Homo sapiens: one gene and its partners. The protein of the gene in region 3 interacts with the protein of the main gene of each other region in a pairwise test. Each region holds a gene or a part of one and is shown on either strand. Other genes may lie near its edges.

What was found.
Region 1: the proteins of FEZ2 (region 3) and RAI14 interact in a two-hybrid assay, tested with the Homo sapiens proteins (one study listed by BioGRID).
Region 2: the proteins of FEZ2 (region 3) and PDCD7 interact in a two-hybrid assay, tested with the Homo sapiens proteins (one study listed by BioGRID).
Region 4: the proteins of FEZ2 (region 3) and RAB3GAP1 interact in a two-hybrid assay, tested with the Homo sapiens proteins (one study listed by BioGRID).

Annotation. Positions count from the first base shown.
Region 1 is NC_000005.10:34,659,294-34,666,329, forward strand, and holds part of RAI14 (ankycorbin), read left to right. Parts: intron 1-7,036. UniProt on the Homo sapiens protein: Plays a role in actin regulation at the ectoplasmic specialization, a type of cell junction specific to testis. Important for establishment of sperm polarity and normal spermatid adhesion.
Region 2 is NC_000015.10:65,130,798-65,138,016, reverse strand, and holds the start of PDCD7 (programmed cell death protein 7), read left to right. Parts: upstream 1-4,208; 5' UTR 4,209-4,235; coding exon 4,236-5,105; intron 5,106-7,219. UniProt on the Homo sapiens protein: Promotes apoptosis when overexpressed.
Region 3 is NC_000002.12:36,553,147-36,560,182, reverse strand, and holds part of FEZ2 (fasciculation and elongation protein zeta-2), read left to right. Parts: intron 1-1,669; coding exon 1,670-1,745; intron 1,746-4,434; coding exon 4,435-4,500; intron 4,501-7,003; coding exon 7,004-7,020; 3' UTR 7,021-7,036. UniProt on the Homo sapiens protein: Involved in axonal outgrowth and fasciculation.
Region 4 is NC_000002.12:135,167,274-135,171,228, forward strand, and holds the end of RAB3GAP1 (rab3 GTPase-activating protein catalytic subunit), read left to right. Parts: intron 1-419; coding exon of another isoform or gene 420-440; intron 441-1,271; coding exon 1,272-1,508; 3' UTR 1,509-2,460; coding exon of another isoform or gene 2,461-2,486; 3' UTR 2,487-3,437; downstream 3,438-3,955. UniProt on the Homo sapiens protein: Catalytic subunit of the Rab3 GTPase-activating (Rab3GAP) complex composed of RAB3GAP1 and RAB3GAP2, which has GTPase-activating protein (GAP) activity towards various Rab3 subfamily members (RAB3A, RAB3B, RAB3C and RAB3D), RAB5A and RAB43, and guanine nucleotide exchange factor (GEF) activity towards RAB18.

The DNA of each region.
Region 1 (7,036 bases), on a different chromosome or scaffold from region 3:
GTCTCGCTCTGTCACCCAGGCTGGAGTGCAGTATCGTGATCACTGCTCACTACAGCCTCAATCTCCTGGGCTCAAGCAGTCCTCCTGCCTCATCCTCCAAAGTGGCTGGGACCACAGGCACATGCCACCATGCCTGGCTAATTTTTTTCATTTTTGTAGAGACAGGGTCTTACTATGTTGCTCAGGCTGGCCTTGAACTCTCAGCCTCAAGTGAGCCTTCTACCTCAGCCTTCCACAGTGCATGAGCCACTGTGCCTGGCCTAGTTTTTCACTGTTACACTTTTTCTGCTGAGTGACACTCTATTTCCATTTTCATTTTTATTTTTATTTCTTTTTACTATAACAGTTTGTACAATAAACATCCTGAGATGTTTTCTTGTGCACACATTTTTCTGTTACACACTTATTTAGTTAGTTGCTGGGTAATGAAGTTTAGGTAATATTGCATTTATTATTCATTCTTCAACAAATATTTAGGGTGCTTGTATGGTCTTGGCTATCTGTTGACTAAAAAAGTGAAACTGATTAAATTCTAAGAAGATTACATAGTTGGCTGGATTATTTTTTTCTTTTTTCTTTCTTTGTTTTAATTAAGAAAAGTGGGACTGGTGTAGTGTTGCATGCCTGTAATCCCAGCACTTTGGGAGGCCAAGGCAGGAGGATTGCTTGAACTCAGGAGTTCAAAACTAGCCTGGGAAACATGGTAAAACCTCATCTCTACAAAAAATACAAAAATTAGCTGGGTGTGGTGGTGTGCCTGTGGTCCTAGCTACTCAGGAGGCTGAGGTGGGAGGATTGCTTGAGTCCTGGATGTCAAGGCTGCAGTGAGCCTAGATTACACCACTGCATTGCAGCCTGGGCGACAGAGTGAGACCCTGTCTCAGCTCCCAGCACTTTGGGAGGCCGAGGCAGGTGGATCACCTGAGGTCAGGAGTTCGAGACCAGCCTGACCAACATGGAGAAACCCCGTCTCTACTAAAAATACAAAATTACCCAGGCGTGGTGGCGCATGCCTGTAATCCCAGCTACTCGGGAGGCTAAGGCAGATGAATCGCTTGAACCTGGGAGGTGGAGGTTGCAGTGAGCCGAGATCCCACCGGCCATTGTACTCCAGCCTGGGCAACAAGAGTGAAACTCCAACTCAAAGAGAGAAAGAAAAAGAAAAAGTGGCTCTTCATTGTAAAATTGAAGCATGAGACAAATCCATGGTGCTGTTTGGGATTCTTGTGCAGAAACCTTTTCTCAGCTACTCACTGGCCGTGTGACCTTGGATTACTCACCCAACCTCCTCTTCCTCATTTCTTTGGTAAGATTAAGGGGTAGGAGTAAGCATTTACAAAGGCACATTCCTGTTCTAAGAGTCTGTGAAAATGTTGCTGTGTTAGTGACGCATTTTTACCCTAATGGTAACCACTCAGGCTGAAAGGAGTTTAAGGCATTTAAACACATTGGCGTCCTCATTCCTTCAAATTGCTGGGCACATTCTTTTTTTTTTTTTTCCCTAAGTTCATGTCAGACACATGTTACACATGCAATCATCATGCTCGTGAATTCTGCAAAAGGATCACCAGGCGTCTTGCCTCAGAGCCTTTGCATGTGCTCTTCCCACTACCTGGAAAGCACTTCTCTTAGACGTCTACATGGCTGTGTCATCCCTTCAGGTGTTATGTTGAGACACCTCCTTCCAGTCCAGCCTGCAACCTCATCCCTGCTTTATTTACCTCCAAGGCACTTACCACCTTCTAGCTTGCCGTGTATAGGTTGAGTATTCTTTATTCCAGAATGCTTGGGACCAGAAGTGTTTCAGATTTTGGATATTTTTAAAATTTTTGGAGTATTTGTATTACATGGTTGAACATTCCTGATCCAAAAATTTGAAGTGCTCCGGTGGGTCTTTCCTTTGGTGTCGTGTAGGTGCTCAAAGAGTTTTGGACTTTGGAGCATTTCAGATTCAGATTCAGATTCCTGGTTTAGGGATACTCAATCTATAATTTATATCAGTATTCTGTACTAGATTATGAGCTCTACAAAGGCATGGGGTTTGCCACTCTTGTTTACTGTTGTATTCATGGTGTCTAGAACAATGTTGACCCCTAGCAGGTAAACAGATGTTTGATGAACAAATGGATATGCTTTTTGTTGTTATTTTTTCTCTGTGGAATTTCGCCTTTAACACTTACTGGATATCCTAAATGGTGCTGGTATGTGCACCATATCTCATATTTACAGATTCCTTCAGGGTAAGAAAACTTATGTCTTCTAGGGAAACCACTCCTTTTAAATCTATGTGATTTATCCTATAAGCCACTTAATGTCTTCAGACTTTTTTTCTCCCAACATTTTGCCTAATCCTGAATTTAGAGGAAAACATAAGTAACACGGTGCTTGGAAGCACACCCATCTTTCCTTTTGTGATAACCTGGTTTCCAATGCGATGAATGTGGAAGATGCATAACCAGTAGATGCTGACTGTATTCCACACGACATCTGCAGTAACAGGCCAGCAGCCATCCCAAGCAACATGAAGCACACTGCATTTCTTTCTTTTTTCTTGAGATGGGATCTTGCTCTGTTCTGGAACTCCTGGGCTCAAGTGATCCTCCCACCTCAGCTTCTCAAATAGTTGTGTCTACAGGCGCGTGCCAACACACCTGCCTAGTTTTTCTTTTACTTTTTACAAAGACAAGGTCTCCTTATGTTTTCCAGGCTGGTCTTGAACTCCTGGGCTCAGAAGGTCCTCCTGCTTCAGCCTCTTGAAGTGCTGGGATTACAGGCATGAGCCACTGCCCCCGGTCCACACTGCGTTTCTAAGAACAAACAGTGTATTTTGTTGGATTGTTGCAGAGTGTACATCATCATTGCCCTGACTTTGTGCTTTTATCTATGAGGATTTTTTTGGAGGGGGAGGAGGGATGTATTTTTCATGATGGAAGGAAAATGAGAACCTTAATCTGAAGATGTTGGAGCAACTAATATGTAGAAAGGTCCCTAGATATACTCTAAGAATTGCCACATCGTACAGTCCTTAATTCATGGCACAAAAAACATTCACTATTATAGCACTAATGCATTGTTTCAGTAGAAGCCAACTGAATTTTTTCTACCTTGCATGATGAGTATAGGAGTTGACAAAACAAAGCTAAATATATCAGAGGCCTCTTGGATGCATTTTATATGGTGATAGGGAAAAGGAGTCTAGATTTTTTTTCCCAGTGAACTATATTAGGTATACGATACTGATGATATCCTTTAAAACATTACTAGAATACTGAAGTACACCATTTACATTTCTTATTGTATCCTCTGTAATAAAATGATATTGAAAGAAATCAGTATATTATGGATCCAGATAGGGTTAAACTTTAAGCTGAAAATCATAAACATAGAATTATATGATTATTAGTAAAATGTTGCACAATTTAAACAGATTTTTTTTTTTTTTTTTTTTTTTTAGACACAGAGTCTCACTCTGTTGCCCACGCGGGAGTGCAATAGGGTGATCTCGGCTCACTGCAACCTCCGCCTCTCAAGTTCAATCAATTCTCCTGCCTCAGCCTCCTGAGTAGCTGGGACTGCAGGTACATGCCACCATGCCCGGCTGATTTTTGTATTTTTAGTAGAGATGGGGTTTCATGTTGGCCATGGCTGGCCAGGCTGGTCTCGAACTCCTGACCTCAAGTGATCCACCTGCCTTGGCCTCCCAAAGTGCTGGGATTACAGGTGTGAGCCACCATGCCCAGTTTAAAGATATTTCTTCCCTTTGTAGTTAGTCATGAGCTGAAAAGTACAGGTGGTTCAACAAAAGATAAAAATTGTTCATCAAATGTCAATTTTCTAGCTCCAGCCATCTACAATGAACAAAAAAATTAGCCTCGTCTTTGACATCAGGCCCACTGAGAGATATCAGCAAATCTAATCAGTATTTTAAAAAGTAACTTTTGGCCAGGCATGGTGGTTCACACCTGTAATTCTAGCACTTTGAGAAGCTGAGGCAGGAAGATCACTTAAGCCCAGGAGTTAAGAGACCAGCTTGGGAAACATGGCGAAACTTTGTCTCTAAAAAAATACAAAAATTAGTTGGGCATGGTGGTGCATTCCTGTAGTCCCAGCTACTCAGGAGGCTGAGGTGGGAGGATCACCTCAACCCATGAGATCGAGGGTTGCAGTGAGCCAAAATCTTACCACTACACTCCAGCATGGGCAACAGAGTGAGACCCTGTCTAAAAAAATAAATAAATACAAATAAAAAGTAACTTTACTGACTTAACCATGTGTTTAAAAACAAAGCAGTACCTTCTTCTGTTTAACTGAAGGAAGCATGCCTTGTTCTTCAATTTTATATTCTATGTGTCCAGTAGAGTATCTGCCACACAGTAGGAGATTAACATCTCTCAACTACTCCTGCCTCAGAGGTCATTAAGCCCCTCATGGCGGTCATCAGATATAGAGTTGTCCTAGTCTAGAGGAGAATTAAACAATAATCAAAAGGCAGAAATCAGCAACAAAGTGCGAAGTCGAAGTTCAGAAGATGTGAAAGAAACACTTTTCCTCCTTATCCACTCTTTGCGGAAGTTTGTGCATTGTGTCTTGATTGATTCACCAGCTGGGTTTTTGTGATCAGTGTCACCTCATCTAACCTTACTTGCGATCTAGGCCAGTCCCTTCTGTAGTGAATGGCATTCACTGGAAATTAGTCTTGCCGTATAATTCCATGACCATATGTCACACCGGGGCAAGGGGACACCTTTGGGAAGTTCTTCATGATTTGCTAATCCCTGCTTCTAAATAAGCAGAATCTAGTTGTGAGAAAAGGTGGTTGTAGTCCAAGAAGCTTACTGTACAGTGGAAGGAAATACATGGGCTCTTTTTTTTTCTTTCCTTATTTATTTATTTATTTTCTTAAATTGACATTTAGGCCAGGCACAGTGGCTGCTGCCTGTAATCCAAGCCCTTTGAGAGGCTGAGGAGGGCAGACCACTTGAGCTCAGGAGTTCAAGACCAGTCTGGGCAACATGGCACAAAACCCCATATCTACTTTAAAAAAAAAAAGTATATTTATATTGCAGTGAGCCAAGATCACACCACTGCACTCCAGCCTGGGTGACAGCGAGACACTGTCTCAAAAAAAAAAAAAAAAGGAAAGAAAAAAATTGACATTTAGTGAACACCAAAGCTTATTATCAAGGAACCAGTTTCCCTTACACTTATTTATTATATTACCTTTTAAAGCTCAACTTAATTTTTCATATCCATTTTAGGTATTGTTATCGATAAGATATTCTGTTTTCTTATGATCTAGATAAGTTCAATTTGCTTAATTAATTTATTTATTAAATTTTTTATTTCCATGGGTTATTGGGGAACTGGGTGTTTGGTTACATGAGTAAGTTCTTTAGTGGTGATTTGTGAGATTTTGGTGTACCCATCACCTGAGCAGTATACGCTGCATCCTATTTGTAGTCTTTTATCCCTCACTCCCTTCCCACCCTTTCCTCCTGAGTCCCCAAAGTCCATTTTGTCATTCTTATGCCTTTGCATCCTCATAGCTTAGCTCCTACTTATGGGTAGGAATGTACGATGTTTGGCTTTCCATTCCTGAGTTACTTCACTTAGAATAATAATCTCCAATCTCATCCAGGTCACTGTGAATGCTATTAGTTCACTCCTTTTTATGGCTAAGTAGTATCCATCATATATATATATATATGTGTATATATATATATATGTGTATATATATATGTATATATATGTGTATATATATGTGTATATATATGTGTATATATATGTGTATATATATGTGTATATATATGTGTATATATATGTGTATATATGTATGTGTATATATATACACATATATATGTGTGTGTATATATATATATACACACATATATATATGTATATATATACACACACCACAGTTTCTTTATCCACTCATTGATTGATGGGTATTTGGGTTGGTTCCACGTTTTTGCAATCAGTTTGCTTAATTTAGCTGTTCTTTTCAAAGAGATAATAACTCTAAAACTAACAAGCAGCATCTACCTCTTTTCACTTTCACTAAGTCTGTCCAGTTCCTTTTGCTGGCTGAAGTGATAGACACTCAGAAAACAGGCAGTGTTAACTGATGGAGAATAAAAGGCCAGAGAAGCCTCCTTTTGCACTAGGGCAGCACAGAGTAAAGTGTTTTCCATTTTTTTTTCTTTTTTTTTTTTTTTCTCTAAGAGGAATCCATTTGCAAACCAGAGAAAACCATCCAGCAGTGATTCTTAAATATTCGTGAGGCATAGATGGACACTTGCAAATCTGATGGGGGTTTTGGACCATTCTTCCTTGGAGAAACTGATGTATGTACAATGATGCTATAAATTCATAATTTTTATCAGTCTCATGAGTTTCATGGAACTCCTTGCCCTAAGGCCATTTATAAACCTCCTTGGAATACCCAGGTTAAGAACCCACAATGACCACCTCTCAAAGTTTGAGAATACAATTACAAGGGCTCTATTTTTCTATCATGTGCCGCTATTCCCCACCCCACTGCCACCCACAGTTCGAAAACCTATCATACATGAGTGAAAAGTAATAATTGTGGGTTTTATACTCTCAATTTGAAAACTAGTCATCGGTTGCTATGTCAACCAGTCAACATACTATTGACCATTTTTAGGATCTATTTCTATTGGATGTAATAAAATGCAATTTATATGCAATGAAAAGGTGGTTTTGTAATATGACTATTTCACAGAGACCTGATGAATTCTAAGGATGAGTCTTAAGTTTCTCACCCCAAGGAGTTGGGTCTGTTCTGTCTTCAGCTTTTGGTGGCAGCAGTTTCCCAGTTTTGCTGTTAACAGGAAGGAATGGAGATGTCCCAGGCCCCACCTGACAATTCTTGTAGTCTCACAGGAGATGTCCTGCGCCCCACTTGACAATACTCCTAGGCTCACAGTAGGTGTCCCAGGCAACCCCTGACAGTACTCCTAGGCTCACAGATGTCCCGGCCCCCCGACAGTACTCCTAGTCTCACAGTAGGTGT
Region 2 (7,219 bases), on a different chromosome or scaffold from region 3:
TTAAACCACTTTCTTTTGTAAATTGCCCAGTCTTGAATATGTCTTTATCAGCAGCGTGGAAACAGACTAATACAGTAAATTGGTACCCGTAGAGTGGGGCACTGTTTAAAAGATACCCAAAAATGTAGAAGCAACTTTGAAACTGGGTAACAGGCAGAGGTTAACAGTTTAGAGGGCTCAGAAGACAGGAAAATGTGGGAAAGTTTGGAACTCCCTAGAGACTTGTTGAACGGCTTTGACCAAAATGCTGATAATGATATGGACAATGAAATCCAGGCTGAGGTGGTCTCAGATGGAGATGAGAAACTCATTAGGAACTGGTGCAAGGGGGACTCTTGTTATGTTTTAGCAAAGAGACTGGCAGCATTTTGCTTCTGCCTTAGAGATTTGTGGAACTTTGAACTTAGGAGAGATGACTTAGGGTATCTGGCAGAAGAAATTTTTAAGCAGCAAAGCATTCAATAAGTGACTTGGGTGCTGTTAAAGGCATCAAGTTTTAAAAGGGAAATAGAACATAAAAGTTCAAAAAATGTGCAGCCTGACAATGCCATAGAAAAGAAAATCCCATTTTCGGAGGAGAAATTCAAGCCAGCTGCAGAAATTTGCATAAGTAACGAGGAGTTGAATGTTAATCTCCAAGACAATAGGGAAAATGTCTCCAGGGCATGTCAGAGATCTTTGCGGCAGCCCCTCCCAACACAGGCCCAGAGGCCTAGGAGGAAAAAATGGTTTCATGACCCAGGCCCAGGGTCCCGCTGCTGTGTGCAGTCTAGGGACTTGGTGCCCTGTGTCCCAGCCACTCCAGTCGTGACTAAAAGGGGCCAAGGTACAGCTTGGGCTGTGGCTTCAGAGGGTGCAAGCCCCAAGCCTTCACAGCTTCCACATGGTGTTGAGCCTGCGGGTGCGCAAAAGTCAAGAATTGAGGTCTGGGGCCGGGTGCACTGGCTCACGCCTGTAATCCCAGCATTCCAAATGATTGTGAGGCCTCCCTAGCCATGTGGAACTGTAAATCCATTAAACCTTTTTCCTGTATAAATTACCCAGTCTCAGGTATGTCTTTATTAGCAGCATGAAAACAGACTAATACAGAGGGTCCTTGGATCTTGTGCAAGAAAGATTTCAGGGCAAGTCCACAGTGCAAAGCAAAAGCAAGTTTATTAAGAAAGTAAAGTGGTGAAAGAATATCTACTCCATAGACAGTAGGGCGTTCCTGAAAGTAAGAGGAGAAACGTGTCCACCCTAGGTAGAATGCTTGCTTATATATAGGATAAAAAAAGATCATGGGGAGATGTGCTCTGCCACAAGGGTTTGTGATAAAGGATTAATTTTTTAAATTACTATATTTTACAAGAATCAACATTATTATCTTTAAAGCAAAATTAGGAATGCTTCTATTCTCAAAATATCGGGATCTCAGGACACTCCTAAGTACGGGTCTGTTTAGTAAATGTTATTAGTCTGTTCCCTTAACCATAAACATCTAGAGGCTAGGAATACCTAACTTCCTGGGAATGCAGCCAAGCAAGTCCCAGCTTCACTTTTCCTAGCCCTCACTCAAGATGGAGTCACTCTGGTTCAAATGCCTCTGACAATACTGTACTACAGTTTTACAAGATGTTACCCTTAGGGGAAACTGGGTAAAGGGTACACAGAATCTCCCTGTATTACTACTTCTCATATTCCATATGAATCTACAATTGTCTCAAAATAGTTTAATTTTAAAAATCTAATCAGGTGGCACAGGCTTCTCTTTACCTCTTGTTTAAAACCAATAGTTTCCCACTGGTCACAGTGGCTCACGCCTGTAATCCCAGCACTTTGGGAGGCTGAGGCAGGCAGATCACCTGAGATCAGGAGTTCGAGACCAACCTCAACAGGGAGAAACCACGTCTCTATTAAAAATACAAAATTAGTCGGGCATGGTGGTGTGTGCCTGTAATCCCAGCTACTCAGGAGTCTGAGGCAGGAGAATTGCTTGAACCTGGGAGGTGGCGGTTGTGGTTAGCCGAGATCGCGCCATTGCACTCCAGCCTGGGCAACAAGAGTGAGACTTGGTCTCAAAACAACAACAACAACAACAAAATAGTTTCCCATTGTTCATAAGATATGAGACCCCAGACATTAGGACTTCACTTCACCAGGATCACCAGACTCCTCTCAGAGCTCCATCCATAACTCGCATTCTTTTTTTTTTTTGGAGACAAGGTCTCGCTCTGTCTCCCAGACTGGAGTTCAGTGGTGTGATCTCGGCTCACTGCAACCTCCACGTCCTGGGTTAAAGCAATTCTCCTGCCTCAGCCTCCCCAGTAGCTGGGATTACGGGCACGCACCACCACACCTGGCTAATTTTTGTGTTTTAGTAGAGACAGGAATTCACCATATTGCCCAGGCTGGCCTTGAACTCCTGAGCTCAGGCAATCCACCCGCCTCGGCCTCCCAAAGTGCTGGGATTACAGGCCAAAACTGGCATTCTATCAGGCTTCCCACTAGACATAGTCCTGTAACCTAAGGCAGGTCCAGTTCCCTGCAGCTTGCAAATTCAAATAACAAGTAAGAGAATGGTAAAAAGAAAGTGACTGCCACGGGCACGGTGGCTCACGCCTGTAATCCCAACATGATCCAAGGCAGGCGGATCATGAGGTCAGGAGATCGAGACCATCCTGGCTAACATGGTGAAACCCCATCTCCACTAAAAATACAAAAAAATTAGCCAGGCATGGTGGTGGGCACCTGTAATCCCAGCTACTCGGGAGGCTGAGGCAGAAGAATGGCATGAACCCAGGAGGCAGAGCTTACAATGAGCCAAGATCACGCCACTGCACTCCAGCCTGGGCGACACAGGGAGACTCTGTCTCATAAAAAAAAAAAAAGAAAGAAAGTGGCCAGGTGTGGTGGCTCACACCTGTAACCCCAGCACTTTGGGAGGCCAAGGTGGACGGATCACCTGATGTAAGGAGTTTACGACCAGCCTAGCCAGCATTGTGAAACCCCCTCTCTACTAAAAACACAAAAATTAGCCAGGCGTGGCAGCAGGGGTCTATAATCCCAGCAACTGACTAGGGAGGCTGAGGCACCAAGAATAACTGGAACCTGGGATGCAGTGGTTGCAGTGAGTGGAGAGTGCGTCATTGCACTCCAGCCTGGGTGACAGAGGGACTCTGTCTCAAAAAAAGTGGGGGGTGCACGGGACTTGGTTGACCTGGATGGCATGCAAGGGGTGGGGAGGGACCAAGGAGGTGCTGGGTCTATGGGACTTGCTCCTATGTATCCATCAGTGATCTGGTTGGCGCCATGGAGGCTGGGGCGAAGGCGGAGGGGGGGTGGGGGGTAGCGGGGAGCTAGGTTGTAAATTGACAGTTGTCCCCAGGCAATCCCCTGGTATGGGAAAGTTCCAGAGGTCCCTGGTTTAAGCTTCGGTCCTTGGAACTAATAAGCGAACACATAATTAGATAAGCTTACAGTGTAGAGAGTGTCTGGTGGAGAGAAGGTAAAGGTTAATTGGATTTTTTTTTTTGACAGGTGTCATTCTGTCGCCCAGGGTGGAGTGCAGTGGCGTTATCGTGGCTCATTGCAGTCTTTACCTCCCAGGGCTCAGGTGATCCTCCCACCTCAGCCTCCCCAATGGCTGGGACTACAGGCCGATCTCGCCTGCCTCGGCCTCCCAAAGTGCTGGGATTACAGACGTGAGCCACAGCACCCACCCTATAATTGCATTCCTAAAGAGCTAAATAGGAGGTGGGGTGAAAGGAGAAAAGTAAAAATAATTCATTTTTCTAAGAAAATGGGTAGTTGGTCACACTCCTATTTACTAGGGCCTTTGCACATGTTCTCATCTGCACTGTGCTTCCCTCTCTTTTTCTATTTAACTATTTATCTTCCAGATCTCAGCTGCAGCCGCAGTTTCTTAGGATAACCTTCTCCAACTTCTCGAAGATACTCACCATGATTAATTGATTAGTGTGTTATACTAGGCAGATAGTTCCACGAAGAGAAGCTCTGTATCTCTCAGTCTCACTGTATGCGGAGTGGGTAGCTCTGCACCTAGGATGCTCAATAAGAACGGTATTTATGAACTGAACGACAGAAGGTTGAACGACTGCCCACTTATGCACTGAGCCTTCCGGAGGGACGAGTCTACAGGGGTCGCGCGTCGTAACGACGTCACTTCCGTCGGAAGGTTCTCATGAGGAGCCACTCAGATTCCTGTCACTTCTCAAAGCATCTCCGTCGTGAACATGGCCCTGCCACCATTCTTCGGCCAGGGTCGCCCAGGCCCACCGCCCCCGCAGCCGCCGCCTCCTGCTCCTTTCGGCTGTCCGCCACCGCCGCTGCCCTCCCCGGCTTTCCCGCCGCCTCTCCCCCAGCGGCCCGGCCCTTTTCCGGGGGCCTCCGCCCCCTTCCTTCAGCCTCCGCTGGCTCTGCAGCCCCGAGCCTCCGCGGAGGCCTCCCGCGGCGGAGGCGGCGCTGGCGCCTTCTACCCGGTGCCACCACCGCCGCTGCCTCCTCCGCCGCCCCAGTGTCGGCCCTTCCCGGGGACCGACGCCGGCGAGCGGCCGCGGCCACCGCCTCCCGGCCCGGGGCCGCCCTGGAGCCCGCGGTGGCCTGAGGCGCCGCCGCCGCCGGCCGACGTGCTCGGGGATGCGGCCCTCCAACGCCTGCGCGACCGGCAGTGGCTGGAGGCGGTGTTCGGGACCCCGCGGCGGGCAGGCTGTCCGGTGCCCCAGCGCACGCATGCCGGGCCCAGCCTTGGCGAAGTGCGCGCGCGATTGCTCCGGGCTCTGCGCCTGGTGCGGCGGCTGCGCGGCCTGAGCCAGGCCCTGCGCGAGGCCGAAGCCGACGGCGCGGCCTGGGTCCTGCTGTACTCCCAGACCGCGCCGCTGCGCGCGGAACTGGCCGAGCGGCTACAGCCGTTGACCCAGGCTGCCTATGTGGGCGAGGCGCGGAGGAGGCTGGAGAGGGTCCGGCGCCGCCGGCTGCGGCTTCGCGAGAGGGCCCGGGAACGCGAGGCCGAGCGGGAGGCAGAGGCCGCGCGGGCAGTGGAACGCGAGCAGGAGATTGACCGCTGGAGGGTGAAGTGTGTGCAGGAGGTGGAGGAGAAGAAGCGGGTGAGAGCAGCGGCCGCTCATGGGGGTAGGAGTGGTGGTGGTTGGAACCTGGAGCAGCAGGAGGCTTTAAACTTCCATTTCCCAGGGCTAAGCCTCTGTTTTACGCGCAAAATGAAGCGATAGCTAACCTTCCCAGCTCATACCACCATGTTAATTTTGTGTTAATGATGTGTGGTACACAAAAGTTCCAGGTGCACTGTAAAATCCTGTAAACACAAAGTATAGGATTACACGGTGGCACTGCACGAATGACAGGTCTCCCCTATCCTGCTCCAACATTGTCCACTTACTCTCAAAACCAGTAAGTGTCTAGTTCCTTGTGTCTTGTACTGCCCTAGGTGGTTTTAAGAATACAAAATACAGGCCGGGCGCGGTGGCCCACGCCTGTAATCCCAGCACTTTGGGAGGCGGAGGCGGGTGGATCACGAGGTCAGGAGTTCAAGACCAGCCTGGCCAAGATGGTGAAACCCCGTCTCTACTAAAAATACAAAAATTAGCCATGCGTGGTGGCGGGCGCCTGTAATCCCAGCTACTCTGGAGGCGGAGGTTGCAGTGAGCCGAGATCGCACCACTGCATTCCAGCCTGGGCGACAGAGCAAGACTCCGTCTCAAAAAAAAAAAAAATAGAGAACTTGGGGACCCTACCTCAAGGAATATATATACTCTAATTAGCTGATGGGGCAATAGTGATTTCCCTAGGATTCTTTTGTTTACAAGTTTTAAACCATGTATCCCCAGGTTCAGCAATGGTGTTTCGGAGCATTTACTATATATATATATATATATACACATACATACATATATATACACATACATATATGTATGTGTATATATATGTATGTATGTGTATGTGTGTATATATATGTATGTATCTGTGTATATATAGAGAGAGGTGTGCTAAGGTCATTACATATACCAGATTTTGAATCTTTATAACAGCCTTGAGAAGTAGGAAGTATTATGCTAATTTTACAGGTTAGGAAGTTGCATAGAGAGGTTAACTTGCCAACAGTCACACAACGAGTTTGTGGCAGTTTCCCATATTTGATCCCAAGTTGTCTAATTCCAAAGCGTATTGATCTCAGACTCTTTAAGCAGGGCCAGGGTAAAACTGGAAATTGTTCAGATGGTTTTCTAAGGCATTTTCTTTCTTTCTTTTTTTGAGATGGAGTTTCGCTCTTGTTGCCCAGGCTGGAGTGCAATGGCATGATCTTGGTTCACCACAACCTCCACCTCCCGGGTTCAAGCGATTCTCCTGCCTCAGCCTCCCGAGTAGCAGGGATTACAGGCATGCACCACTACACCCCAGCTAATTTTGTATTTTTAGTAGAGACAGGGTTTCTCCATGTTGGTCAGACTGGTCTCGAACTCCTGACCTCAGGTGATCCACCCGCCTCAGCCTGCCAAAGTGCTGGGATTACAGGCGTGAGCCACTGCACCTGGCCGTCTAAGGCATTTTCATTACCTTTGATTGCCTCTGGGGTTCCCTTTCCTCTTCCTCATTATTTCTATTATTATTACATTATAATACATAATGAAATAATTATACAACTCACCATAATGTGGAAACAGTGAGAGCCCTGAGATTGTTTTCCTGCAACTAGACAGTCCCATCTGGGGGTGATAGGAGACAGTGACAAATCATCAGGCTTTAGATTCTCATAAGGAGCCCACAACCTAGATCCCTTCCATGCGCAGTTCACTTCTTTGTGCTCCTATGAGAATGTAATGCTGCTGTTGCTGATCTGACAGGAGGCGGAGCTCAGGTGGTAATGCAAGCAATGGGGGAGTGGCTGTAAATGGAGATGAAGCTTCACTTGCTCGCCTGCCTCATCTTTTGCTGTGTGATCTGGTTCCTAACAGGCCATGGACTGGTTACCATCCGTGGCCTGGGGTTTGTTGACCCCTGGCTTAGAGATCTGTGGGAGATCATGTCAGTATAGCGTGGTGTGTGTTAGGAATTCAACTATAGGTGCTGTAAAAGCCCAAAGAAGGAACATCTGATTTACTGAGGGAATGCTTCCCAAATGATACAATGACACGTAAGCTGAGTCTTTTTTTTTTTTTCTGAGACAGAGTCTCGCACTGTTGCCCGGACTGAAGTGCAGTGATGC
Region 3 (7,036 bases):
TATTCACATTTTTGTATAATGATTGAAGGAATATCATGAACATGGGAAACATTCACATTAATGGGTATGCTTAAAATTACCTTTCACTATATGAAATTTTCACCTTGAAAAAGAAAAGTCTTTAAGTTAGCTCTTCTGTGCAGATTAAGAAGGTGTACAAAATGTAGCTTGTAGGAAGTTTAGCAAAAGAACGCCTAGATCAAATGCCTGGAGTTTTTACTGCAGGTAGTTAAGTGTTTCTCCGGAAGGGAGATCATTCCTATTAAAGAGGGAAGCCTCACACTGACATTTGCAGCTCATCAATGAGCTCCATGAAGGGATGTTTGAGTTTTTGTTTTCATTCCGTTGCCTCTCACCTCTCTCAACCTCAAAAGAAGACAAGGAATCTTCCAGACTGTCAGTGGAGCAGGGAGGCCTGAAGATGCAGCCAGGTAGCCAGAGAGCGGGCCAGGGTGCAGCCGCCTGGTGCCTCTCCAGGTTGCCTCACACATGCAGAGTGAAGCCAGGAGGACATCATTTCTGGCCTTTTGTTGTTGTTGTTCTTTACAAAGAAACATTCGATTATACAATTGGGCATCACCTGCAAGAAGTCTACGTCAAAAAGACGGTGGGACACTTAACGTGTCTCAGAGATTGAACTATGCAGTTTTACCACTTTTCTGGACTTAGGGATCCAGTTACTGTAAAGCAGCTTTCTTTATCCTGTTTTTCAGTTATGGGCAGGATAAGATCACTCAGTGAGGATTAGCCACAGAGCTGAGATTTAGGGCACGAGGTTAAATAATGGGTGGAGCTAAGAGATTCCAGGTAAAAACCACTGGCTTTCTATATGAGCATATGTGAAATGCACGGAACTATTTTTTTGGTGGGATGGTAAGAACAGGAAAATCTGGACAATCATTTATGGATTATGCTTTCATGGGATTAGTTAAAAGACATGGCGCTGTTACTTGTGAGCCTTTACAAGTAGTGAACTAGGAAGTTTATCTCAATTTCAGACATTAATTTTCATTATTCATTTCCCCTTAGGCCATTCTCTACTTTAACTTTTCTCCTTTAATGCCTAAAAACGTTTACAATGACTTACCCAATAATTTAAAATAATAGTAACGCATTTCTAAAACGATTTAAGTGTGTCTTTGTTAGCTTCTGAAAGAAGCTAGTGTGTGTTTTTCAAAGTTGTCATGTTATATATGTGGACCATTTGTTCAACCAGAATAAAAATGGTCTGAAACAGAATTATTTTGCTGTTGGAAATTACTTTATTGTGCAGAACTGTTAAAACTATGTTTTTAGTTTAAATTGCTATTTTTAAAATGTGTTGAAAAATATGCAAGTAGAATGTGAGATAATACTTCACTTTAAAAATGAACAAATTGAGTAAACCATCCTCAGACTTAGTCCTATGAAATTTTCAATAACTGAAATGCAAAAAGGTGGTTGTTTCTGTTGACATTAGGTTTGTATGAAGCAAATAGAGGTGGGCAAAAAAAAATGAGCTCCATCTGAGATAGTAAGATAACTTTATTCCCATACAATACCTGTGTTTTCATTACCAAAGTAGCTTGTGTTTTATATTATCAGATAGACCTTCTAGTAACAGTATCAAATTTTTTGCAGATAAGGTAATTCCGATTTAAGTGACACTTTTTTTTTTTAAACTTGGCAGTATTTGACTACAGTCATTCCTTATGAGAAAAAAAACGGACCACCGTCTGTTGAAGATCTTCAAATATTAACAAAAAGTGAGCAAAGACAAAATGAAACTATTACCTGATTTCCTTTTGCTGATTGGTAAACACCTGACTTTAGTTGGCTGATTTTGTTGTTAGTGTTTTGTCAGTTTAGGATGTAAATGATGCATATAATTGTTTATTTTTATAAGAATGAAGCCAAAAATGGCTGTGACATTAAATACAACAGTAACTCTAGTGTTGATTTGTACTTTTTCTGTTTTTCTTACCTTGTGAAATATTTATGAGCTAAAATTTTGGGAAAAAGCATAACCTAAATCTCCATCATCTCTTACATGTTTAAGAACATATCCATTTATCATAAATAAAATTCCTTATGGATCTTATATATCTATGATTGTCAGTAACTGAATAGGAAAGATTTACGGTAAACACTTTTTATTTCTTATGAATGTAGAACCCGAGGTAGTAGTTATAGGTAGAACATAAATTGACAGTGATGTTTTAAGAACATGCATTCATTCAGCAAATATTTAGTGAAGGCCTACTCTGTACCAGGCCATGATCTGGGCACTTGGGATACTTTAGTGAACAAAGCAGACAAAGATAATGCACCTTCAAGGGGCTTGCCTTAAAAAAAAAATTGTTAGATTTAAATATACATGATATTGAGTATCTCTTATGATGGCCGCAAATGAGCCTTGAATTCTGGTTCTATCCCTGTTATTTTCAGGGATATCCTTGGAAGTTACTTACTCTCTTTTGCTTACATTGAAAAACTAGGATAAAAAATATTTGTTCTATTTACCTCACAGTAAATAGATTAATATATGTATGATTTTGGCTAAGTTACTATCAATTAGCCGTTAAAATGGAGGGATTGAATTTGCTGATCTGTTAGGTCTTTGTTATGGTAAATATTTATGATACTTGCTAATTAGGGGGGAACCAAATGAAAGAGCATCACATGGATGAGTATGGATGATGATACTTATTTTGGAAATTTAAGAGGAATGGGCAAGGAAAACCTAAGAGTAGAAGCAAGTGTCTTATTTCTTAGCTCCCTGCCTGCTAACTTGGAGCTTTTATTCTTTCCTTTGGTGAATAATTCTTTAAAAATTTTATATTTAAATATGGATAAATCAAGTGATGCCAGCCAGTCTGAAATAAAAAATCAAGAGATTAACTGGGTAGCTAGCCCTCTTATTTTCAGGAAGAACTTAAGTTATATGTGTCCAAGATCACACAGGGGGATGGTTAGTTACAGAGCTGGATCTCTTAATTCCCAGGCAATTATACTTTTAATGATGCTGGTTTTTGGTATGTGATTTTATTTAGAAGTTAGAAAAAATTTTAAACATGATTGGAAGCAGAAATACTGAACATGGTAGCCCTCTAAAGAAGGGAACATAAATATTGCTCATAAGCCAGGAATTACTGGCAGGCCTCAGCTTCTCAGATCAAGAACAAATACTTCATTGGTCAAACTAAAGTCATCATAATTCCAGCATCGAGATGTCTTTATAGGTTGTCACAGTTTGGAATCTCTGGACATATTTGGGTCCAAAGCTCCTTTTCTTTCCAAAAGAAGAGCCCTGTGGAGACAGTCACAGTGTTTATGGATATATAGTCTTCCTGATAAAAGCTATTAGGGGATTTTGGGTGCAATAATAATAGTTAATAAAAATTTAAATAATTTGAGTAGTGTTAGTTACAGTTAATACATAGCATGTACTATGTGCCAGGCACTATGATATGACCTTTATATCTGAATTAGTAGCTTAGTCCTCATAACAAACCTTTGAGATTAAATCTAATTATTATTCTCATTTCACAGATGAAGAGCTTGGTGCAAAAGTGGTTAAGTAGCTTGCTCAGCGTCACACAATTAGGAAGTGGCAGAGCCAGGGTTTAAACCCAGGAAGGCTGATTTGACAGTTACACTATTTTGCCTTGTCGTATTGGTGGGGAAAAACAGTGAAATATTTTTACCAGGATGCTTTGGAGAAAATTTGAGTTGGCAATCTCTGTTAAAGTATAATATTTGTGAGTTTATCTCAACCTGAATGGTCTAGCTTAAAAAAGAAAAACGTTATACTAGGTGGCTGCTTTTTCTATTTTAGTTTTTACTTAGAAGATAAATTTGTCAAATTAGAATGAGGCTAATTCTCCCAGGTTTCTCCCTAGTGCAGAGGAGGCAACAGCCAGGCAGATGCCCGATGCTGCTTCATGGAAGTCTGTTCTTCATTTGGGTCTTTTCTTTGAAAGTTTCTAAGGAGTCTGACAGGATACGCTTGTTGGAGGGTATAGCTGTCCATTTCTTTAAGAGTTTCTCTAGTTTGCTTGATCTGCAGCACTGAGGTTTTCTTGCTGCACAGAGTTCATTGAGGTGCACATTATAGTAACCCACTTTCCGGTATTATTACAGAGCGAAGGCTCCTTGTAAATAACCCAGTTCCTCTTTTTTTGTCTCCACTGTTTGGAAATTTTAAATCAGGGAAGCAACTCTCAGGTAAGTGGGATATTCTTACCGAAAATAAATTCTTGTGGACTTACTCCACTAAAATAAATTATTGGGCCTTTATTGTTGTATCCCCTTATCAGGAAAATCACCTATAATTTGTATGAGTCAGTTATATCCTATAATTAAGGAAGATTAAGGCCACAATGATTGAAATTAAATAATATTTTTGATCTAAATTTTTAATTGTTGTCTTTTTTCCCCTCTTCTATTTTGCAGTTCTTCGTGCCATGAAGGAGGACAGTGAAAAAGTTCCGAGCTTGTTAACTGATTATATTCTGAAAGGTGAGTTTTATAATGGTATAGGTGCGATGGCTGGGAGGTTTGGATTAGTCAGTAAATACATCGCCTTGCTAATACATTAGACAGTAACTTCCCAATGCACAACTTTCATTAATCTTATTATGCAGGGTGAGGATTAGCTACATGACTGACTTCTACCAACATTATATATCATGGTTTTATATAATTTAAGTTTTATTGGAGGTTCTGGGTTGGAAATAATCTCCACAGTTAAACTATAAACATCAAGAGAGGTAGTAGAAGAAAATTAGTGAGATGGCACCATAATCATGTGGGTATCAGATGTTGGCAGATTGGCACTGGGAAATTTGAGAAGGGTGGTCTCTGTCATCTTGAGGACAGTGGAAAGGAGGACAGATCATTAGTGAGGACGGATGAAGGAAGGAAGAGTCACATCTGTGAACAGTGCCAAAGGGAATACGAAAGGGACTGATGTAAGACACAGGGAGGGAAGCGGGGAAATAAAAAGAATGGACTTGCATAAACCCAGGAAAGTGAAAAAGCAGCCACAAATCTTAGAGGCAAGGTGAGGCTCACACAGGGTGGGAATATTGATGAGGCAAAAGAAGAGTGAGAGGTTGAGTTGCTTTGCCGAGAAAAGAGCAAAGTTTGGATGATAAAGAAGGGACGGAAGAACTTAATTAGAGGCAAAATTAATACTTTACGATGAAATATTTTTTTAAAGTAGCAGGTATTCAGGGACCAGATTTTGAAAGCATCACAAAATGCATCTTTGTAGTGTTTGATCAAATTTTGAGAGCAATCCTCTTCTAGTAACAGTCTTCTTCTCTGGGTTCTCTCTCTTCTCCATTAAAGTTAGCTGAGCACAAGGAAGATGAAGATTTCTGAGACATTAGAAACCTCTGATGGTCTTTTCTTAAACCATAGTGTCATGAAAGGGGAACCTCAGTAGTATACACAGGGTGCTCAAAGTGAATCACACATTTCACTTGTAAGAGTCTTGATGCGGTGAGAGTAAGAAGCATGAGCTAGACACTAGTGGGTTGACACTGGAGTAGAACAGACTGAGTTGACATCATTTTAAAAAATAAGCTTTTTTTCTGATGGAGGACTTTTTCTCCCTATAAAATTCTGAAAAATTTTTTTTTTAATACCTGACATCTTTGTTTGCTTTTGTGTTGTGCTAGCATTGGTATGAAAGCTGGATTGTTCTGAGGTTCGTTCTTCTAGATGTGAAACAGGAATGAGACGAACATAAAGAACATGTCTTAAATTTTAATTATATCGGGTTCCTAGGCCTCTATGAGGGCCAGAGATAGAATGAGCTTCTGAAGCATTCTCTAGCTATTTTAGCATTTAACTGCATGGAAGGATGTTATGACCCAAAGAACAGAGTCCTCTGGGGAAAAATGATTTTTAATTCTTTACTCTGAAAACCTAGGACTATAATTGTGAACCTACCTATACCGCATGCCTTAGGGAAGCAGCACCCATCTAATTCTGCTCCTCATGCTCGGGCCGCTGGCTCCTGTCTGTAAGCCCAGTTCTATCTATACTGTACCTGCTTCTGATGAGCTGTCTGTGTGCATGTGTTGTGGTTTTGTCTTGGCTTTGTATTGTGAGGACTGGGTGGAAAAGCAGCAAGGATTTAGACTACAGTGGAGACTGTAGTCAGAGAAAATGAAGACGGGAGTGCAATGTGGAGATGTATTTACCCAAATGTGTGTGGGAAGGTGGGGAAGTCGGGTCATTGAAAATGCTCTTTTCCACCCATCCTGAAAGTTCACAGCTGGTTAACTGTTCCTCTTCCTTGGGGACCAATAATACGACACTTTGCCCGGGAGGGGGATATTGCTCAAGGGGAGAATACTCCTTCCCCTTTTTTGGGTGGTTTGTTGTTGTTTTAACACAGATGAGAGTGTGGCTTGGCTGCCTAAATACACCACTTAGTTTTAATGCAAATGTCAGAAGTGAAAGAAGGTAGAAAAGTGGTCTCATTTGGCCTGAGAAAAGGGAGTAGGGTGGGCACTGTATGGGCTAATTGAGCTTCTCTTTCTCGCACCTGCCTAATGACCCCACTGCAGCCTGCCGCCACTGCTGCCTTGACAGTAGTACCCAAGGCTGATTCTGAAGTAATGTACGCGTGGCTGCTGCCGTGCTGCTAGTTAGGAATAAAAATGTGTGCAGAAACTTGCACCCTTCTTTGACTTCCCTAGGGATCCTGTTTGTTGTGTCACAAGCCTCATGGTATAGGGCGAATGTTAGGGGCTTCTATCTCCAAGTGGCACCCTAAGAGACATGGCCTTTTGGTATCTCATTTCTGGGAAATTCTAATGTGTGTTGAGAGAACTCATCCTTGTTGGGTATAGCCTCTTAAAACCTTTAAAAAATTGCTACATAGATCTTTGCATTAACATTTAGTTCTCATTACTTAATGGTTTTTAAATGTACATGTAAAATGTATGTTTTGTGTAAATGTATACAAAATATACATTTGTAGCTAAAAGTTCTCTTTTTCTTCTAGTTCTGTGTCCTACATAGAGCAGCAACTTTATCT
Region 4 (3,955 bases), about 99 Mb from region 3:
ATGGAATTCAGCAAATAAATGACTGACTGGATTTCGCTTCAGACTTGCTAGATTGAATAACTGTTAGGCACCTATTCCTAAATTCTATTTTTCAAGCCATGAACACTTTTTTTTTTTTTTGCATCATAATTCCCAGTAAAAGAGCTAGGTTTTTGTTGTTCATTTCTCCCATTAAATGACATCATATGTCACCTGTTGAGCCATGGATGCATGAGTAGTAGTAGATGTCTGCTGTAGTTGACAGCTGGGTGTGCTGTGTTTGGTGTGACTTTGTCTTGAATATTCTTTTGATAGGATCATGTTCCATAATGTAGTGCATACTGTCTTTGAAATAATCCTGAACTCCCTTGTCTAGCCCTATTTAAACCATCTTGCTTGTTTCCCTTTCATCACTGTTTCTTTTCTTACCCCTTCTCAAGCTGACTGAATCTTCTGATGAGGTAACAAAATAGCCTTTGCCCCTCATAGTTCCTTGTTCCTTCCCATCCCTCTAATTTCATAAGGTCATTAACACTAACCACCTCTCTCACAGTCTGGATTTGGCTTACCTACCTTGCTGATGTTTAGCGCAACATGATTTCATGTTTCCATTGCCAAAACAATTTTTTTTCCCAAATTGATGGTATTAAAAAAAGTACAGTAATCAGAATTAAAATTGTAGGCTGTAAATGAACATGCATTTTATGTCATTTCAATGAAAAAATAGATGCCTTTAATATTGCGAACTTCTCTTTTGTGGTCATTGCTATATGGGCCTCTATCACTTCGGCATCACATTAGCTGCCCAGCAAGCAAGACCAATGCCCCCACTTTTAATTTGGCAAGTGAACCTTAAAAAGAATCGATTAAAAAATTCTTACCCAGAGTCAAGATGAAAATCATCTTTTCACTCTGGAGAAAAACAGCTCCTTACTGGACTGAGGCTGTCAGACGTAGACTTGGGTCATTGCTGGAAGAAACATAGAAAGCAGCACAGCTCCGAGGTCCTTTTTCATCAGATGTGTAAATATGGCCTTCTCTCTTCAGAGCAGATTGCCTGGCAGTCATCATCCCTCCTGTCTGTCTCCAGCCCGGCTGCTCATGCAGTGTCTCAAGCTTCTTGCATTTGCTGTGTTATGTGGTTTTTGAGTAATCTTAACATATAGCTGACTGCATTACTGAGTAACGTGGGACATTTTCATATCTTTATTATGTTAATTCATCTGTCCTTCAAAAGCATCTGAGTTTAGCATTTGACCTGCTTTTGACTTTAGCATTTGATTCTTTTCCAGGCTGCAGCTATGACTCCACCAGAGGAGGAATTGAAGAGAATGGGCTCCCCAGAGGAAAGAAGGCAGAACTCCGTGTCAGACTTCCCACCCCCTGCTGGCCGGGAATTCATTTTGCGCACCACTGTGCCGCGCCCTGCTCCCTACTCCAAAGCTCTGCCTCAGCGGATGTACAGTGTTCTCACCAAAGAGGACTTTAGACTTGCAGGTGCCTTTTCATCAGATACTTCCTTCTTCTGATTCTTCTAGCATTACTCGTTGGTGGCTTCAGAGACAGTGCTGCCTCCTCCTGAGGGAGGGAAGGTACCAGGGAGAACCTGGGAGGTCCTGGAGAGGGCCCTGTCCAGTTGGGTGATCAGGAATCAAACCAGCATCGGAAAGACTTCCCAGCACCAAGCTTGAGCTGTGTCGTTTCGTGGAGGGGGCAGCGAGGATGGGCTTGAGCTGTTGAGAGATTTCTGCCCTAGAGATGGCCTTTGTATATGGGGGGGTGGTGGGGGGACACAAACACATCAGACACTCCGTCCTCACACTGGCAGGACGGTGTTCATCGCATTCTCTTCTGTGACCAGCCTCTAGGCTAGCGGCTGCATTCGTGGTCTGTGCAAACACTTCGTGGTTCTATATATCAGCAGCAAGTGTGCAAAATAAAGGACCTGTTAACTCAGATTTCTGGATATTTTGGTGGTAGCTTCTAGTCCCAGAATCTGTGTTTTTAAAATACTACATGACATTCTGTCTATTCAATCACCTGGTGGTCATCTTTCTTGTACTAATTAACTGTTGATGAGCATTTTGGATATTCTAGGAGAAAGCCTATAATTTCACATAGTTTCTCTTTTTCATGTAACTGTAACCTAAATGTATTACTTCTGATAAAACTATATATCAAATGTCACTGCAAATTAGTTTTATATCTGTCATGTGAGATTTGTCTTACTTATTTTTCTTTTGGTTGCCATGGAAGTTATGGCCCTGAAAATCGTCTCCCTCCCCTTCTCTTGCTGTACAGCATGCGTTCTCTTTTTGTGGTTGCTGGCTGGGTACTGTATTTAATGAAGTAGAGAATAGCACTTGCAAAAATACAGTCTTGGTACCTAGAGACTGTCATGCAGATAGTATAATTTGGTATATGTGCTAATGCATTGAGTAGAGGATTATTTTAACACACTATTTTGCTTTTGTATTTTAGTTAAAATAATCGATGGGGATGTGTAGCCCCCCCGTGTGAGGATGACATCACCACATTTCTAGTTTCATGGAGCTCAAGATGTCTTGTGTCTGTGTGGCTAGATGGCCTCTGCTTGGTAATCTTATTTTTAGGCCTAAAATTCCCACTTAAATCCAAAGTAAAAATGGTTATACTGAAGCATAAACCTTGCCTGTGTAATTTTAAAAAATTAATAGAGCTGTGCAAACCCTGTTATTTTTGTAAAAAAAAAAAAAAATACATATCTATATATAATATGTGTGTGTGTGTGACATATGCACACGTCTCTGTGTATGTGAAGTAGGGGAGGCCCTGGGGGATGACCTCCCAGCCTTTATGATGCTTTTCTCTATGCTGCTGGACTTCATTCTTACTGGTCCACGCAGATGCAGGCGGCCTGAGGCCAGTGCTGTACCAAGTAGAAGACGGTTCCTAAGGACAGAGTTTGTCTGTTTTCTAACAAAGAAAAATTCTACAAAGGAGAGGTTGGGCGTTACAAAGGCATTGTGAATCTAATAAAAGGAAAGTGTCGCTTTCTGTGGCGTTTTCTTTCATTTTCTCCCGCTGAGGCATTTCAGTCTAATTTCATGTGGTTTTGTGCTGTCTCAGCTCTAATGTTTGCAGCCTGCTGAGCCTAACAAGGCAGTGGTCTCAAGAACATTCTTTGTGCCTTTTTAAAGTACTCCATTTTATTTTTATGATAGTTATGTATTTATTTCACAGATATATTTAAGTACCCACTTTGTGTCAGGTACAGTACAAGCAATGAAGATAAAACAGAAACCAAAACACACTCCCTTACAGGGAAAACTGACACCACGTTGCCACAAAATGTTGAGTATAGTCAACTCTGCTGTGTGGATCGGAGGGCCTGCATTTATCCTACAAATAATTGAATGTAATCCTACATTCATGTATTCATTGGCAGTACGGAGTAATAAATGCAGCAATGTCATAAAGTGTTGTAGGAGTTTCTTCACCCAGGCTTTGAGGATCAGGAAAATTACCCCAGAGGGTGTGATTTTGGGATTGAGACCAGAAGCTGAGTAGGCACTGGGGAAAGCATGGGGGGCGTATGGGAAATGGCTTGCAGAGAACCAGGCATTCCTCCAGCCCTGTGTGCAATGAAATCATGATTTTCATTGTGAAGTGCTTTATTTCTCCACCTCTTCAATCTGGTCTCGGCCATGTCTTTCTTTGGTCAACAGACAGAGACTTGACAAGTCCTTGCACATTGGGGCTTGCCCTCCCTTCTTGCCAGGAGCCTTGAAGCCACTGTGAAGAAGGCCACTCTAGGGTGAGAGTTGGGGCAAAAGGTAACTGACAGGAGGGGGCAGAAAGCGTATTACAAGCAGAGGAACGGAATGGGCAAAATCCCAGAAATAAGGGAAAATGTCTATTTGGGGGGCAGCCAACATTTCTATTTGGCTGAAGTGTGGTATCTAGAGTGGGAAGGGGCAAGAAATGAAGATGGTGA